2 separate regions of the Homo sapiens genome follow, and region 2 is linked to region 1. Evidence: fine-mapped expression QTL. Tissue or cell type: whole blood. Region 1 holds a variant in brackets; the other region holds the start of a gene. All regions are shown on one strand. Distances are from middle to middle.

The links. PIP is the estimated chance that this variant, and not a neighbour inherited with it, causes the effect.
Region 2: TYMP starts here. The variant in region 1 is fine-mapped to the expression of TYMP in whole blood (TOPMed, PIP above 0.99).

What each region holds. Positions count from the first base shown.
Region 1 is chr22:50,501,262-50,509,261 of GRCh38, reverse strand. It overlaps LMF2 (lipase maturation factor 2), which reads left to right and starts at 1,560. Exons shown (of 14, transcript NM_033200.3): 1 at 1,560-1,680; 2 at 2,227-2,480; 3 at 2,596-2,624; 4 at 2,760-2,977; 5 at 3,049-3,227; 6 at 3,447-3,588; 7 at 3,725-3,859; 8 at 3,928-4,033; 9 at 4,109-4,205; 10 at 4,278-4,460; 11 at 4,535-4,703; 12 at 4,811-4,922; 13 at 5,358-5,454; 14 at 5,563-6,313. The coding sequence starts at 1,587. The coding sequence ends at 5,871. NCAPH2 (non-SMC condensin II complex subunit H2) reads right to left here and starts at 1,038. Exons shown (of 20, transcript NM_152299.4): 1 at 817-1,038. The coding sequence starts at 924. The variant C/T (reference allele first, on the strand shown) is at 3,528.
Region 2 is chr22:50,525,404-50,533,403 of GRCh38, reverse strand. It overlaps TYMP (thymidine phosphorylase), which reads left to right and starts at 3,392. Exons shown (of 10, transcript NM_001953.5): 1 at 3,392-3,500; 2 at 3,685-3,908; 3 at 4,066-4,268; 4 at 4,794-4,892; 5 at 5,687-5,816; 6 at 6,121-6,239; 7 at 6,666-6,828; 8 at 6,928-7,158; 9 at 7,263-7,403; 10 at 7,486-7,652. The coding sequence starts at 3,695. The coding sequence ends at 7,634. It overlaps SCO2 (synthesis of cytochrome C oxidase 2), which reads left to right and starts at 7,806. Exons shown (of 2, transcript NM_005138.3): 1 at 7,806-7,932. It overlaps CIMAP1B (ciliary microtubule associated protein 1B), which reads left to right and starts at 906. Exons shown (of 7, transcript NM_001014440.4): 1 at 906-927; 2 at 1,293-1,435; 3 at 1,631-1,834; 4 at 2,109-2,213; 5 at 2,346-2,467; 6 at 2,552-2,692; 7 at 2,844-2,978. The coding sequence starts at 1,327. The coding sequence ends at 2,924.

The sequences.
Region 1 (8,000 bases):
GGTAGTTGTCCTAATACAGGCAATATTTAAAATCATAGAAATAAATGACACTTCAGGGTAAATGCATCAGAAGATGACCTAGGCCCCATCCTGAGGAACTCAACACTTAGAGACTGGATAGAAAAGAAAAATCAGGCAATGAAATAGGGAAAAAAAATCCTACCACCATGTTTCAAAAAGAAAGGAGTGGCCAGTCCAACAAATGCTGACTTATGTCCCTTGGATTTGGTAGAATGGAGATCACTGCTGATCAAGACAAGAAACATTTAAGTGTCGTGGACGCCAGACTGAGCTGGGCTGAGGAGTAAAAATGAAGCGCAAATATGGAGCAGACAGCTTAACACAGGTCTAGACAGGGCTGTCAAACATGGAAGAAACACTAATCGCTAACAGGATAGAGCATGGCAATAGCTTGAAATTGGTTTGAAAATCCAAGATAAAAAATTCCTCTGACATCGTGATCCAGACCTCTCAAACACACAAGCATGCTCGCAATAACTGCAATAAAAGCAATAATGCTTTCTAGTCTATTCCACTACGTTAGAGAAACGGCTGGTCACCACCCACTCAATCATTCACGGCTCGCTGACGGGTAGAAACCTGCAATGACAGGTCCACGCTAATCCAACAAGGGATGATTTGGGGAGGCAGAGATGGAGTTTGAAAAGAAGCAGGGAGCCCGAGGACCTGCGCGGCCAGAGCGCCAGATAGCCATAGGCGTGGAGACGGTGGGGCGCCCACAGCCCCGGGCCCGGAGCCCCCGCCCCGCAGCCCCACCCGCCGGCCCACCCCGCGTCACTCCCCCGCCGCCCTTACCTCCTCCAGATACTCGCCCAGCTGGGCCGCCACGTCCACCTCCCAGTTCTTGGTGAGGTCGCGGATGGGCTGCAAGAGGTGGGCGAAGCGCGCCTCCACGTCCTCCATGTCCGGGAGGGAACGGGCGGCAAAGGGACCGCAGGGCTGCCTTCCGAGGGGTACGGCGTCCTCAGCCCGCCACTAGTTCTGGCGCCATTTTGCTGTTCCCGCCCAGGAAAATGCGTAGGCGCGGCGTCGCGCGCATGTCTATGACGTAACGTGGGCAAAAGCCAGAGAGGCGAACCCCGGCGCCGCGCAGCGGGAGCTCACCGGAAGAGTCGCGGGGCGGGGTCGAAGCCTCCGGGAGGGGGGGGTGGGCGGAGCTTTGGGCTGCCACCAGTTTGGACGGGAGGGCTTTTGGGGCCGCCGTGGGTCGGGCGGGGCGGGGTGGGGCGGGGCCTGGAGCTGCCGCGGGCGAGCGGGCCGAGGAGGCGGGGCTTGGGGGCTGCCACGGGTTGGGGGGGCGGGGCGGTGAGGAGGCGGGGCCTGGGGCAGCCGCGGGCGGGCGGACGGGCCGAGGAGGCGGGGCTTGGGGCTGCCACGGGTTGGGCGGGCGGGGCGGTGAGGAGGCGGGGCCTGGGACTGCCGCGGGCGGGCGGGCGGGCCGAGGAGGCGGGGCTTGGGGCTGCCACGGATTGGGCGGGCGGGGCGGTGAGGAGGCGGGGCCTGGGGCTGCCGCGGGCGGGCGGACGCGGAGGGCGGGCCCTGCTCTAGCGGGCCGCGTAGCGGACATGGCGGGCTCCCGGCTCCCGCGGCAGCTCTTCCTCCAGGGCGTGGCGGCCGTCTTCATGTTTGCTTTCGCTTCCCTCTACACGCAAATCCCAGGTGAAGGCACCCAGGGTGGGACACCCCCAGCCTCGGCGCGGGACCCTATGTCCTCTTTTCTCTGTGCCCGGCACTCACGCAGTCCGGGGTTGGGAGTGAGGGCCAGGCCTTGGCGTGGGGTAGGGGGCGGCGGTTCGTGTCCTGCAGGCCGCTGTGGGGGTAGGAAGGTGTGCGGTGATCCATTTCCCGTAAGGCTCTGGACTCTGACCTGGGGTGGGGGACAGAACTCTGAGAGAGGTGGGAGAGAGGCTTCCTCCCAGACCTGGTGGGACAGGTAGGAGATCGGGCTGAGACCTGGAAGAGGGCAGTGGGCTCTGCTGGGTGGGAGGCCCTGACTCAGGTAGTTGAGCAGGCCTCTAGCCCTGGGACGGGGTTTTGACAGGTCCCGACCTGGGGGACGGGCTCTGGAGGGACTGCAGACTCTGACCTAGGGATGGAGGTATCCGCATGCTCTGACCTAGGCTGGGGGATCTGCAGGCCCTGACTCAGAGGTAGTCTAGTCTGCAAGGGCTGTCCAGGGCCTGGCCATGACATGCCCTCCCACAGGCCTGTATGGCCCCGAGGGCATCCTACCTGCAAGGAGGACGCTGCGGCCTCAGGGCAAGGGGCGCTGGCAGCAGCTGTGGGAGACCCCGACGCTGCTGTGGGAAGCGCCGAGACTGGGGCTGGACACGGCCCAGGGCCTGGAGCTGCTGAGCCTGCTGGGTGCACTAGTGGCCCTGGGAGCCCTGCTGCTGAGCCCACTGCGCCACCCTGTCATCTACTTGCTGCTTTGGGCCGCCTACCTGTCAGCCTGCCAGGCAAGTGGGACCTGTGACCAGCTCACTCTATCTCCAACCCCCACCACCCACCCCTGCCTCTACCTTACCTGAGTCCACAGACACACCCGCTCCCTGACAGCCCCTCTCTCCGCAGGTGGGCCAGGTGTTCCTTTATTTCCAGTGGTGAGTGACGGCTGGGCCTGGGGCTGTGGGAGGCTGGGTAGGGGGTGGGGGAGGGCTCTGCCCTTCCTGGGAGGACTTTCCGAGGGAAGCAGCTGTGTGGGGAGGGGCTCTTGGTGCTATTTGCTCTCCCCATAGGGACTCCCTGCTGCTAGAGACTGGCTTCCTGGCCGTGCTGGTGGCCCCGCTGAGGCCAGCCTCCCACCGCAAGGAGGCCCCCCAGGGCAGGCAGGCAGGGGCCCTGCCCCACGAAGACCTCCCCTTCTGGCTGGTGCGATGGCTGCTGTTCCGCCTCATGTTCGCCTCAGGCGTGGTCAAGCTGACCAGCCGCTGCCCTGCGTGGTGGGGGCTCACTGGTGAGGGGCCCGGTCTGGACCTGGGGTAGTCTGGGGGCTCGGCCAGCCCTGACTCCTGCCCTCGCCTGCAGCCCTCACCTACCACTACGAGACCCAGTGCCTGCCCACGCCCGCCGCCTGGTTCGCACACCACCTGCCGGTCTGGCTGCACAAGCTCAGCGTGGTGGCCACCTTCCTAATTGAGATCGCTGTGCCGCCCCTGTTCTTCGCCCCCATTCGACGCCTGCGCTTGGCTGCTTTCTACTCGCAGGTGGGTGAGGGCCGCAGCTGTCAGAGAGAGGCAGACAGGGCTCGGCCTTCAGCGCTGCTCAGCGTGCCCTGTTGGGGACAGCGTGGCTCCCGGGGACAGCTGGCAACCGCTGTTGGGAAGGCCTTGTAGCAGAGGGATGCACCCTGCAGGGTGGAGGTGGGTGCCTGCCACGGGGCCAGGCGTCAGTCTCCGGGAGCACTGAGAGCGGGCCGCCCCCAGGTGCTGCTGCAGGTCCTGATTATCATCACCGGCAACTACAACTTCTTCAACCTGATGACGCTGGTGCTTACCACTGCGCTG[C/T]TGGACGACCAGCACCTGGCTGCTGAGCCTGGCCACGGCAGCCGCAAGAAGACGGCCACCTGTGCGTGTCACTTGTCCAGCCCCCTGCCCTCCCAGGGGTTCTCCCCTCCAACACCCCCACAGGACTCCCACTCTAGCTGCACCCCAGCCCCCTGGCTGGGGACCCTCTGCTGACCCATGACTGTCCTGCCCCACAGCCTGGCCCAAGGCCCTGCTGGCCACCCTGTCGCTGCTGCTGGAACTAGCCGTCTACGGGCTTCTGGCCTATGGCACTGTGCACTACTTTGGCCTGGAGGTTGACTGGCAGCAGCGCACCATCCACTCCAGAACCAGTGAGTGCCGACCTGGGGGGGCCAGAGGGCAGGGGCGGACCAGTCCTCACACCCCCCTCCTCCACCAGCTTTCACCTTCCACCAGTTTTCTCAGTGGCTGAAGACACTGACGCTGCCCACTGTGTGGCTGGGTGTGGCCTCCCTGGTCTGGGAGCTGCTGAGTGCCCTGTGGAGGTACATGGCCCAGGAAGCAGGGAGGGGGCACAGGTGTGCAGGGCCGGCCTGACGACCTTGGGTCCTTGCCCACAGGTGGACCCAGGTGCGGGGCTGGCTACGGAAGCTCAGTGCTGTAGTCCAACTGTCCCTTGTGGGCACTGCGACCGTGGCCTTGTTCCTGATTAGCCTGGTGGGTAGCGCTGCAGGGCTGGGGGATGGGCTGGGGGCAGGGCAGCCCTGAGAACCTCCCACCTGTCTCCAGGTGCCGTACTCCTACGTGGAGCCCGGGACCCACGGGCGCCTCTGGACCGGGGCCCACCGCCTGTTTGGTGCCGTGGAGCACCTACAGCTGGCCAACTCCTACGGCCTCTTCCGCCGCATGACTGGGCTTGGTGGACGGCCTGAGGTGGTGCTGGAGGGCAGTTACGACGGCCACCACTGGACGGTGAGCCCTCCCAGGGCGGGCAGGGTGGTGGGGCCCAGGTCAGCGGGCCCAGCTGACCTCGGCCTGCCTGGCAGGAGATCGAGTTCATGTACAAGCCTGGGAACCTGAGCCGGCCGCCCCCGGTTGTGGTGCCCCACCAGCCACGCCTGGACTGGCAGATGTGGTTTGCAGCCCTGGGCCCACACACGCACAGCCCGTGGTTCACAAGCCTGGTCTTGCGCCTGCTGCAGGGCAAGGAGCCAGGTGCGGAGCGGGCTTGGGGGGTGTGGAGTGGGCTGGGGTGGAGCGGGGTGGGGAGGGGAGGGGCAGGGCGGGTACTGTGGGGGCCACGCTGATGCCTCTCGCTGCAGTGATCCGCCTTGTCCAGAGCCAAGTGGCCAGGTATCCCTTCCACAAGCAGCCGCCCACCTACGTCCGAGCCCAGCGCTACAAGTACTGGTTCTCCCAGCCTGGGGAGCAGGGGTAAGGCTGGGCACCGGGTGGGGTGTGGAGCCCGGGGTGCAGGGGTAAGGCCGGGCACCGGGGGGTGTGGAGCCCGGGGTGCAGGGGTAAGGCCGGGCACCGGGGGGGGGTGTGGAGCCCGGGGTGCAGGGGTAAGGCCGGGCACTGGGGGGGGTGTGGAGCCCGGGGTGCAGGGGTAAGGCCGGGCACCGGGGTGGGGTGTGGAGCCTGGGGTGCAGGGGTAAGGCCGGGCACTGGGGGGGGTGTGGAGCCCGGGGTGCAGGGGTAAGGCCGGGCACCGGGTGGGGTGTGGAGCCCGGGGTGCAGGGGTAAGGCCGGGCACCAGGGGGGGATGTGGAGCGTGAGGAGCTGAGGAGCAGGGGTAAGGCTGGGCACTGGCGATGGGGTATGGAGCCCGGGGTGCCTCCAGCTTCTGAACATCGGGTCCTGCTGCAGCCAGTGGTGGCGGCGCCAGTGGGTGGAGGAGTTCTTCCCATCCGTGTCCCTGGGGGACCCCACGCTGGAGACGCTGCTCAGGCAGTTTGGACTACAGGTAAGGGGGTGTCAGCCAGGCTGGGGGAGGTGGCAGGGGTGACCCCAGCCTCCCGGGGTAAACCCAGTAAGCACTTCCCCAACCTCCCTCCCTCCCTCCCTCCCACAGGAGAAAAGCCCACCTCGCACCCGCAGCGCCAACAGCACCCTGGCCCAGGCCCTCCACTGGACTCGCTCTCAGCTGTCTCCCCTGGAGGCCCCCGCCCTGCTCTGGGGGCTCCTCATGGCCGTGGGGGCTGTCAGATTTGTGCAAGCCCTGCTAGCACCCTGTTCTCTCCGGTCCTCCCCGCTGGCACCAGTCAGCGGGGAGAAGCGCAGGCCAGCCTCCCAGAAAGACTCCGGAGCTGCCTCCGAACAGGCCACCGCAGCCCCCAACCCCTGCTCCAGTAGTTCGAGGACCACCCGGCGAAAGAAGTAGCTGTGTTCTCCCAGCTGCACGTCCTGAGAGGGCCAGGTCGCCGGGAGTGCTCTGGCCTCCGGCAGGACAGGACCCAGCCACTGTGCCTTAGCTGACCCTGCAGGGCCAGGCACAGGTTGGGGGGCTGCCCCTGGGGTTTGCAGGGTGCTGCATTGAGGGCTCCAGGCCCCACCCCCACGCCAGCCATGCCCCTCCCCAGGACTCCCACTATTGCCTCTGTGATTGGCCCAGGAGGAAAACACGACCAAGCTCAAGACCCTTCCCCTGCCCTGGGCTGTGGGGGTCTGAGTCTAGAGCCCCCAACCCTAGGCCCCGTGCCAGAGGGGAAGAGGCTGACTCCCAGGGGAAGAGGGGAAGCACTGTCATCTTCCACGTCATCTTCACACCAGCCCATCCTGCCCTTTAGATCTGGGCACCAATAAAGGCGTCTTTTGTGCTTGGCTGTGTGCCTGGTGCTGCTTTCCCAGGAGGCATGAGGATGGGATTGTCTCCCCTGCCCCAGGCAGTGGGCCGCCCAGAGCACAGTCAGGCTCCGCCACGGCGTGGCTCCCTGGGCACCCTCCTGCCCCGTCCTCAGCATTCTCTCTGAAGAGGCCTGGCTTGGTGTTGCCCACTGCCTGATCACAGAGGAGCCTCAGGCCTGGCACAGCCCGGTGGACCTGTCAGCTCCACACTCCAAGGTCGGTGGTGGAGCCGGTCCCTCACTTCCCTCCTGCTCCCACTTCTTGGCCTCAGGAAAGGACGGAAGGGCCAGAGTGGGCAAGGGGAGAAGGAGAGATGAGGTGGGCAGGTTAGAAGAGGCTCCTCTGCAGAGTGAGGCCAGGGGGAGGGTAGCTGGAGGCCCTGGGTTGGGACGGAGGAGGGAAGGTGCATCTGATGCCCCTGGCCTCCATCCTGGGAAGAGAACAGCAGCAGAGACAGCAGTCAGGGCACCGTCCAGGTTTCCATTTGGGGTCAGGTTATCAATCAGAGGTCACTGCCCACCCTGGAAACTCACAGCACAGCTTCCTCTGCCTCTGGCCCGTCCTCTTGGTACAGCCCCTGCCTCCTGGTCTCCTGCCAGACCCCTGGGCAGCTCCCAATGTACCCAGCTCCCTCATGTCACTGACCTCCATCTGGCCCACCCAGGCAGAGCCCTGTGCTCAAACACAGCCTGTGGCGTGAACTCTCAGATGTCTTCAAGGGGCTCCTATACATGGAATAAACAATCGAGAAGTCAGCCTTGGCTTAATAATAGGCTGGGCGCTGTGGCTCATGGCTGTAATCCCAGCACTTTGAGTGGCCGAGGTGGGTGGATCACCTGAGGTCAGGAGTTCGAGACCAGCCTGGCCAACATGGTGAAACCCAATCTCTACTAAAAATACAAAAATTAGCTGGGCATGGTGTCGGGTGCCTGTAATGCCAGCTACTCCACAGGCTGAGGCAGGAAAATCGCTTGAACCTGGGAGGCAGAGGTTGCAGGGAGCCGAGATCATGCCACTGCACTTCAGCCTAGACAACAGAGTGAGACTCCATCTCAAAAAAAAAAAGTAATATGTTTAAAACTAAAAAACCTGTTCCTAGGCTTCTTGGCTTTCTAGACAGGGTCTCACTCTGTTGCCCAGGCTGGAGCACAGTGGTGCAGTTGTGGCTCACTGCAGTCTCAGACTCCTGAGCTCAAATGATTCTCCTGCCTCAGGCTGCCATCACCACCCACACTCCCCTTGTTGCCCAGGCTGATGTTCCTGAGTTTTTTTTTTTTTGAGACGGAGTCTCGCTCTGTCACCCAGTCTGAAGTGCAGTGGCAGGATCTCGGCTCACTGCAAGCTCCACTTCCCGGGTTCGCGCCATTCTCCTGCCTCAGCCTCTCTGAGTAGCTGGGACTACAGGCGCCCGCCACCACACCTGGCTAATTTTTTGTATTTTTTTTTTAGTAGAGACGGGGTTTCACCATGTTAGCCAGGATGGTCTCGATCTCCTGACCTCGTGATCCGCCTGCCTCGGCCTCCCAAAGTGCTGGGATTACAGGTGTGAGCCACCGCGCCCGGCCTGATGTTCCTAAGCTTTCAAGCTCACTTGATGAATGCGTTCTGTGTTTTGTTTTGTGTAGCAGCTCTCTTGGTAAGCCACGTGCTACACAATTCACCCGT
Region 2 (8,000 bases), 24 kb before region 1:
GATGCCCCCGGCCGAATAAATCCCTTCCTTCTTTAACCTGGTGTCTGAGGAGTTTTGTCTGCGGCTCTTCCTGCTACAGTTTGTAACCAGATTATTTCTGACAAGTTTTGATCCAGGGTTTTTTTTTAAAGATTTGTCAATTTCAAAATATTTGTTTGCTCCTGCTTCCTGTTCTCTCTCTCCCTTTTTTTTTCTTTTTTTAAGACAAGGTCTCACTCTGTCACCCAGGCCGGAGTCTAGTGGTGGGATCACTGCTCACTGCAGGATCCAACTCCCAGACTCAACAGATCCTGCCGACTCAGCCACCGACCCCATAGCTGGGAATACAGATGTACATCATCACACCCAGCTAATTTTTAAAGTTTTTTGTCGAGATGGGTCTCACTGTATTGCCCAGGCTGAGTTTTCTTCTTCTTTTTTTTACATTTTGTTTGCCTAGAATTGTATTTGATTGTAATCAAATCATGTGTCACATCTTTTTTTCAATTTGTGTGATTATTTTGTGGCCCAATACATGATTTTTTTTGCGAATATTTCATGGACTTAAATAGATAAGTCCTCTCTCTACACATAATTAAATGGAGTGTGTGCTTTGCATTATTCAGTTCCTTTATTCCCATCCTTGCTTTTGTCTGCAGATTTGTCCTATTCCAGAATGGGTATACTGAAACTTGGGTAAGGGTGAGGCCAGCGTTCTGGGTGGCCCAGGCTACTATCCCACCCGTGCCACAGAATCCACACAGAGGCCCAGCGGCGGCACTGGGTGGTGGGGAAGGGGGAGGCGGACCCAGGTTGGGGGGGCAGGCAGTCAGTGCGGTTGCCAGGAAGCGGGAAAGGGCCACAATGGGGTCTGGGAGGTGGGCGGGGCGGAGCGGGGATGTCCAGCCACGTCGCTTTGTTTTCCCACGCTAGGAGCTACCACAACAGGTCAGTGCACCTCGGGGCACCGGGTCCCCCACGCAGGCCCTTCCCGGGGCACCCTTTCCCAACAGCACGAAAATCTCCTGCCCCCACCCCACCCCCAGGTGATTCCCTTCACCAAGTCTGGGTCTAGACTTGGCCCCCGCGAGTTCACGTCCCTGCCTAATGCGCCTGGAGTCCGGGTGATGGCCCTGGATCCGCTCCCGGCCCCAAGCTCCACACAGCCGGGAAGGAAGCTCGCGTTTGTTTTGCTGGCGCCAGGGATACGGTCCAGGCCCCGCCCCGCCCCGCGCTGATCCCAGGGTAGTGGGAAAGTGCGCTCCCCAAGAATTTGCGGTGCAGGGGCCGCGGCCACCGCCTTCTGTCCGCAGGTGCTGCGAGCCGTAAGCGCCCCCCACCCGCGCTATGGGCTCGGACGCCTGGGTGGGCCTTTGGCGGCCACACCGGCCCCGCGGCCCCATCGCGGCGCACTACGGAGGCCCCGGGCCCAAATACAAGCTGCCGCCCAACACCGGTAGAAGGGGCAGGCCCCGGGATTGAGGGGTGGGACGGCGCCTGGGGGAGGGAAGGGGAAGAGACCAGGGAGGCCTGCGCTCGGGGCTGAACCGTGCCTGCTAGAGGGGAGAGGGGGTCTGTGCCGGGGGAGGGTCCGTGTTGCAGATGGGGCTTGGGGCTGGGCCCGGCCAGACGCTAACTCGGATGCTCCCAGGCTACGCCCTGCATGACCCGTCGCGGCCGCGCGCCCCCGCCTTCACCTTCGGCGCGCGCTTCCCCACGCAGCAGACGACGTGCGGCCCCGGGCCAGGCCACCTGGTGCCCGCTCGCATGACCGTGCGCGGCACCGACGGCGCCCCCGCCTACTCCATCTACGGCCGCCCACGCCGCTCAGCGCCCTTCCTCACTCCGGGACCTGGTCAGGACCCCCGGGCCCCTGGCCACCCCAACGCCGAACTGCCTCCAGGGAGGCCCACCTGGGAACCCCCGACCTGAACCCCGAGTCCCCCTCGGATACCCTAACACCGCATATTCGGTACCCCCATATCCGGATCTCAAATCCCAAACCCCGAACCCCACGGGGCTTTGATAAATCGTGGCTCAGACTCCCCACTAGTCCCAGGACCCCATCTCGGGTACCCACCAGGCTCCCACGCAGTTCTAGCCCCCCACACCCTTGATCCGCCCCGCAGGCAGGTACTTCCCGGAGCGAGCGGGGAACGCGACGTACCCCAGTGCGCCTCGGCACACCATTGCTCCCCGAAACTGGGGTGTCCAGGCGGAACAGCAGAGCCCAGGTGAGGTCAGAACGGCCCATCCCAGAACTGTGGGCCTTCCCACTCGAGACCGGGGACCGCCCTCCGGGAGCTGGGACCACCCTGCGCCTGTCCGCGGAGACCCACTACCCCCGAGCCCTGCCTCCTCCCCAGGTCCCGCGGCCTATACGGTGCCCTCGCTCTTGGGTCCGCGCGTCATCGGCAAAGTCTCCGCCCCAACTTGCTCCATCTACGGCCGCAGAGCGGCTGGCAGTTTCTTCGAGGACCTCAGCAAGGTGGGGGAGGGGCCGGGGCGGACGCAGGGGGTCCCTGGTCCGCGGCAGTGGAGGCGGCAGCCAGCACCCTCTGCCCTCTCGCAGACCCCGGGCCCCTGCGCCTATCAGGTCGTGAGTCCAGGGGTCTACAAGTCCCGGGCCCCCCAGTTCACGATTCTGGCGCGGACTTCGCTCCCCCAAGACAACACTCGGAAGCCAGGGCCCGCGGCCTACAACGTGGATCAGGTGGCCTGGAGCCCAGGGTCAAGGGTCAGAGTCAGGAGAGTGGGGAGGGCCTGAGGTCGGAGTGATGGGATCAGAGTCCCCGGGGGTCCAGGGGTCCCGGCGCGGAGAGGATGCCGGCCCCGCGAGGTCAGCGGTGTCTCCGGGCCCGCAGCACCGGAAGCCCCGCGGCTGGAGTTTCGGGATCCGGCACTCGGACTACCTGGCCCCGCTGGTGACCGACGCGGACAACTGACCCGCCAGGCGGGAGCGGCCCCACACGTGTTTGCTTAAAGTCTGCGAGTCCGCATCGTGTCCGCCTCTCTCTCTCTCTCTCTGCGCGTCCTGGCGCAAGGCCTGGGGTGGAGCCACGGCTGGGGCCGTGTCCCAACTCCGAACCCAGCGGGGCGGGGCCCGAGCGTCGGGCGAGGCCGGGACCCCAGCGCTGCGCCGCGTCCGAACGTCGAGACCCCACCGAGGGCGGGAGGGGGACTCTCGGGAGCCACAGACGCCCGAGACCCACGCCGGGCGGGACCGGCCAGGGATCACCCCCGCCGACGGCCCCGGGCCCCGACGGCCCGGAAGTTCCGCGTGTCCGGGGGCACCGGGGGATTGGCCGGGGCGCGGCGTGCAAGGCTTCCCGGGGGCGGCGACTGCCGAGCTCCGCCCTCCAGGCGGCCCCACCCGCCTGCCGTCCTGGGGCGCCGCCGCCCCGCCGCCGGCAGTGGACCGCTGTGCGCGAACCCTGAACCCTACGGTCCCGACCCGCGGGCGAGGCCGGGTACCTGGGCTGGGATCCGGAGCAAGCGGGCGAGGGCAGCGCCCTAAGCAGGTACGGGCGGGGCTCAAGTCGCGAGGCGGGGAAGCGGGAGGCAGACACGGACGAGGGCGACACAGACACGGGACCGAGGGGCGGACACCGGAGAGACACGGGAAAGGGGTCGGGACAGGAGCACGTGGCTCAGACACCGACGCCGGGAGGCCGCAGACCCCGGACGTGTCAGGCATCCCCGCAGGCCCGGAGCGATGGCAGCCTTGATGACCCCGGGAACCGGGGCCCCACCCGCGCCTGGTGACTTCTCCGGGGAAGGGAGCCAGGGACTTCCCGACCCTTCGCCAGAGCCCAAGCAGCTCCCGGAGCTGATCCGCATGAAGCGAGACGGAGGCCGCCTGAGCGAAGCGGACATCAGGGGCTTCGTGGCCGCTGTGGTGAATGGGAGCGCGCAGGGCGCACAGATCGGTGCGTGGGGAGGGTTGGGCGTTCCTGACCCCGACTGGGAGGTCAGCCCGAGAGACTTTGGGTCCCTGGGGGTGCGACGGTGCCCCACTACCAGCACCGGCCCCAGGGTGCCCCACCGCTGTGGGCTGCCACCCTCACGCGTACCCCCACATACCAGGGGCCATGCTGATGGCCATCCGACTTCGGGGCATGGATCTGGAGGAGACCTCGGTGCTGACCCAGGCCCTGGCTCAGTCGGGACAGCAGCTGGAGTGGCCAGAGGCCTGGCGCCAGCAGCTTGTGGACAAGCATTCCACAGGGGGTGTGGGTGACAAGGTCAGCCTGGTCCTCGCACCTGCCCTGGCGGCATGTGGCTGCAAGGTTAGAAACCACCTCCTTTCCAGACGGGAGCCTATACCGCACATGCAGCAACCAGTCCATCCACAGGCAGCTCCCAACCTCAAGCCTGGCCCAAAGCCTCCAAGACCCTACCAAGGCTTCTCCCCACCCTGCTCCCCAGCACAGTTCTCCCCACCCCGTTCCCCAGCACAGCGCTTGGGGCCCCTCTGGCTCCAGACCAGGCCCCTTGGAGCAGGAAAAAGATCCACTGATGGAATTCAGACCCCTTTCCCCTTGGGTCCCCAGACAGCTCCCCCAAGGGAGGAGCTGAGGACTTTCCTCCCTCTGCCCCAAGCCTTGTTTCCCCAAGGACAGGTACCAACCTCCTCCCCTACTGACACTTCTCAACCAAGAAAACTTCCTTTCCATTCCCTCACCAGCTGGGCACCCCTATAGCTGCTTAAATACTTTCCAAATCCAGCTGCACTCCTAGCCAGGGAAGGTGAAGGGATGCACAGAGGTGGGGGAGGGGTACTGTGCAGGGTACTCAGCATCCCTGACCACCAGGTGCCAATGATCAGCGGACGTGGTCTGGGGCACACAGGAGGCACCTTGGATAAGCTGGAGTCTATTCCTGGATTCAATGTCATCCAGAGCCCAGAGCAGGTACGGGGCGCCACGGATCAGTCATTAATCCAGGTTGATGATGGAGACCCTGGCCAGAATCACTAAAAGATCACTGGTGGATCATTAGGGTCACTAATGAGAACACTGGTCAAGGTTACTCATGAGTCACTGGGCCTGGGCCGAAATCATCAGTGGAACTTTGATTAGGATCATAAAATGGGAAGTTGGTCAAAATCACAGATGGCTGGCGGGGCACGGTGGCTCACACCTGTAGTCCTAGCACTTGGGGAGGCCGAAGAGGGCAGATCCCTTGAACCCAGGAGTTCAAAACCAGCCTGGATAACACGGCAAAACCCCATCTCTACAAAATAGTTCGCTGCGTGTGGTGGTGCACGCATGTGGTTCCAGCTACTCAGGAGGCTGAGGCAGGAGGATCACTTGAGCCTGGGAGGTCTAGGCTGCAGTGAGCCGGGACGATGCCACTGCACTCCAGCCTGGGCAACAGAGTGAGACCCTGTCCCAGCACTCTGGGAGGCAGAGGAGCCCAGTTGGAGATCAGCCTGGGTAATATAGTGAAACTTGATCTCTACAAAAAAAAGAAGAAAAAAAAAAGCCGCGTGTGGTGGTGCGCACCTGTAGTCCCAGCTACTGGGAAGCTGAGGTGGGAGGATCACTTAAGCCCAGGAGGCAGAGGTCACAATGAGCCGAAATTGTGCCAACTGCACTCCAGCCTGGGCAACAGAGGAAGACTCTTCACAGAAAAAAAAAAAAAAAAAAAAAAAGCTGCTAAGTCATTTACCATAAGTCACTGAGAACAGGGGATGTCTGACCAGATGCAAGTGCTGCTGGACCAGGCGGGCTGCTGTATCGTGGGTCAGAGTGAGCAGCTGGTTCCTGCGGACGGAATCCTATATGCAGCCAGAGATGTGACAGCCACCGTGGACAGCCTGCCACTCATCACAGGTGACCTGACTCCATGGCCTGCTTCTGCATGTTCACAGGCTCCTGACCTCCAAACTCAAGTCAAGGGCCTCTCGTTAGGAGTTACCCGTCACCTGACCGTGTGCCCCCCTACCCCCATCACAAGATGCCTGACCACCACCATGTGGGGTGGCCTGATACTCAACCCACCAGGTGCTGCCACCCCCATAATAAGGGACTTGACCCTCAATGCTCAGGGCCCCTGACCCCAAAGTCGGCATCCCCGAACTCTCCCAAGAAGCTCCAGGTTCTCCATTGTCTCCAACCTCCTCTGCCTCCCCCAAAGCCTCCATTCTCAGTAAGAAACTCGTGGAGGGGCTGTCCGCTCTGGTGGTGGACGTTAAGTTCGGAGGGGCCGCCGTCTTCCCCAACCAGGAGCAGGCCCGGGAGCTGGCAAAGACGCTGGTGAGCGGTGTGGCCTTTCCCTGGGCAAGCGTCTTGATGCGGGCCCAGCCTACCCTTCACCCCTCCCGTCCCCACTGCCTCCCTCCACTCAGCAGTCCTGCCTAACCCCAGTCCCACCCTCTTCTGCCCGAAGTCCCTCCCTCCTTCACGGCTTCCTAACCTGCTGTGACTTTAGAGGTCAAGGCTGGCCCGGCCTGGACCTGGGGAAGCCCTCTGTGGCGTTCCTGCCCCAGACCAAGTACAAGTTCCTCCTGGCCCCATGGCGAGGTGTCGCACTTCACTCGTGTCTCTTCCCCACCCCAATCCTTCCCTGACTTCATGCTGGGGGGCTGGCAACCCAGGGTGCAGCAGGGGCTGGAGTTCGACCAAGAACCGGCTGCAGAAGGCCCCGCCATGGGGGGTCCACGCTGAGCCTCCTCTCCGCAGGTTGGCGTGGGAGCCAGCCTAGGGCTTCGGGTCGCGGCAGCGCTGACCGCCATGGACAAGCCCCTGGGTCGCTGCGTGGGCCACGCCCTGGAGGTGGAGGAGGCGCTGCTCTGCATGGACGGCGCAGGCCCGCCAGACTTAAGGGACCTGGTCACCACGCTCGGTGAGGGGGACGGGGTGTAGGGGAGCGGAGGCGGCGGGGGGTGCTTCCCGCTGGGGCCGCCCCGACCCGGCCGCGCCTAAGACCCGTCCCCGCCCGCAGGGGGCGCCCTGCTCTGGCTCAGCGGACACGCGGGGACTCAGGCCCAGGGCGCTGCCCGGGTGGCCGCGGCGCTGGACGACGGCTCGGCCCTTGGCCGCTTCGAGCGGATGCTGGCGGCGCAGGGCGTGGATCCCGGTCTGGCCCGAGCCCTGTGCTCGGGAAGTCCCGCAGAACGCCGGCAGCTGCTGCCTCGCGCCCGGGAGCAGGAGGAGCTGCTGGCGCCCGCAGATGGTGAGCGTCGGGGGAGTCCCCGTCCTTCCGCCTCCGCCATCCCCTTCCCTTCCCGAGGCCCCGCCCCTTCCCGAGCCCGCGCCTCTCAGCCCCTCTCCCCGCAGGCACCGTGGAGCTGGTCCGGGCGCTGCCGCTGGCGCTGGTGCTGCACGAGCTCGGGGCCGGGCGCAGCCGCGCTGGGGAGCCGCTCCGCCTGGGGGTGGGCGCAGAGCTGCTGGTCGACGTGGGTCAGAGGCTGCGCCGTGGTGAGCGCCGCCCCCGCCCTGCTGGCCCCGCACCCCCGCCCAGCTCCGGCCGCGCGGCCTCTAACAGCCCCTCGCTCTGCAGGGACCCCCTGGCTCCGCGTGCACCGGGACGGCCCCGCGCTCAGCGGCCCGCAGAGCCGCGCCCTGCAGGAGGCGCTCGTACTCTCCGACCGCGCGCCATTCGCCGCCCCCTCGCCCTTCGCAGAGCTCGTTCTGCCGCCGCAGCAATAAAGCTCCTTTGCCGCGAAACCTTGTCAGTGCTTGGGCGGGAGCGGAAGGATCCAGGGCTGCGGAGGCGGGGGCCGTCTCGATGAACACGTGACCCCCGGCGGGCTCCGCCTTCCGCGCACGCGCTGAGAGCCTGTCAGCGGCTGCGCCCGTGTGCGCATGCGCAGCTCCGGGGACGCCTGCGCCCTGCCTGTGAGCGTGTGGCGCCCGCTTTCCCTGAGCCGGCGGGGCAGAGCGCAGGGAGCTGGAGGTCGGCGCTTCCTCTCGTGCTTGGTCCACTGACGCGCGGCCCCGCCGCGAGGTGCGGACGCCGGGGCTGGGAGGGGAGGAGGTAGCCCTGAGGACTCGCTGGACTCCGGGGTAGTTTCC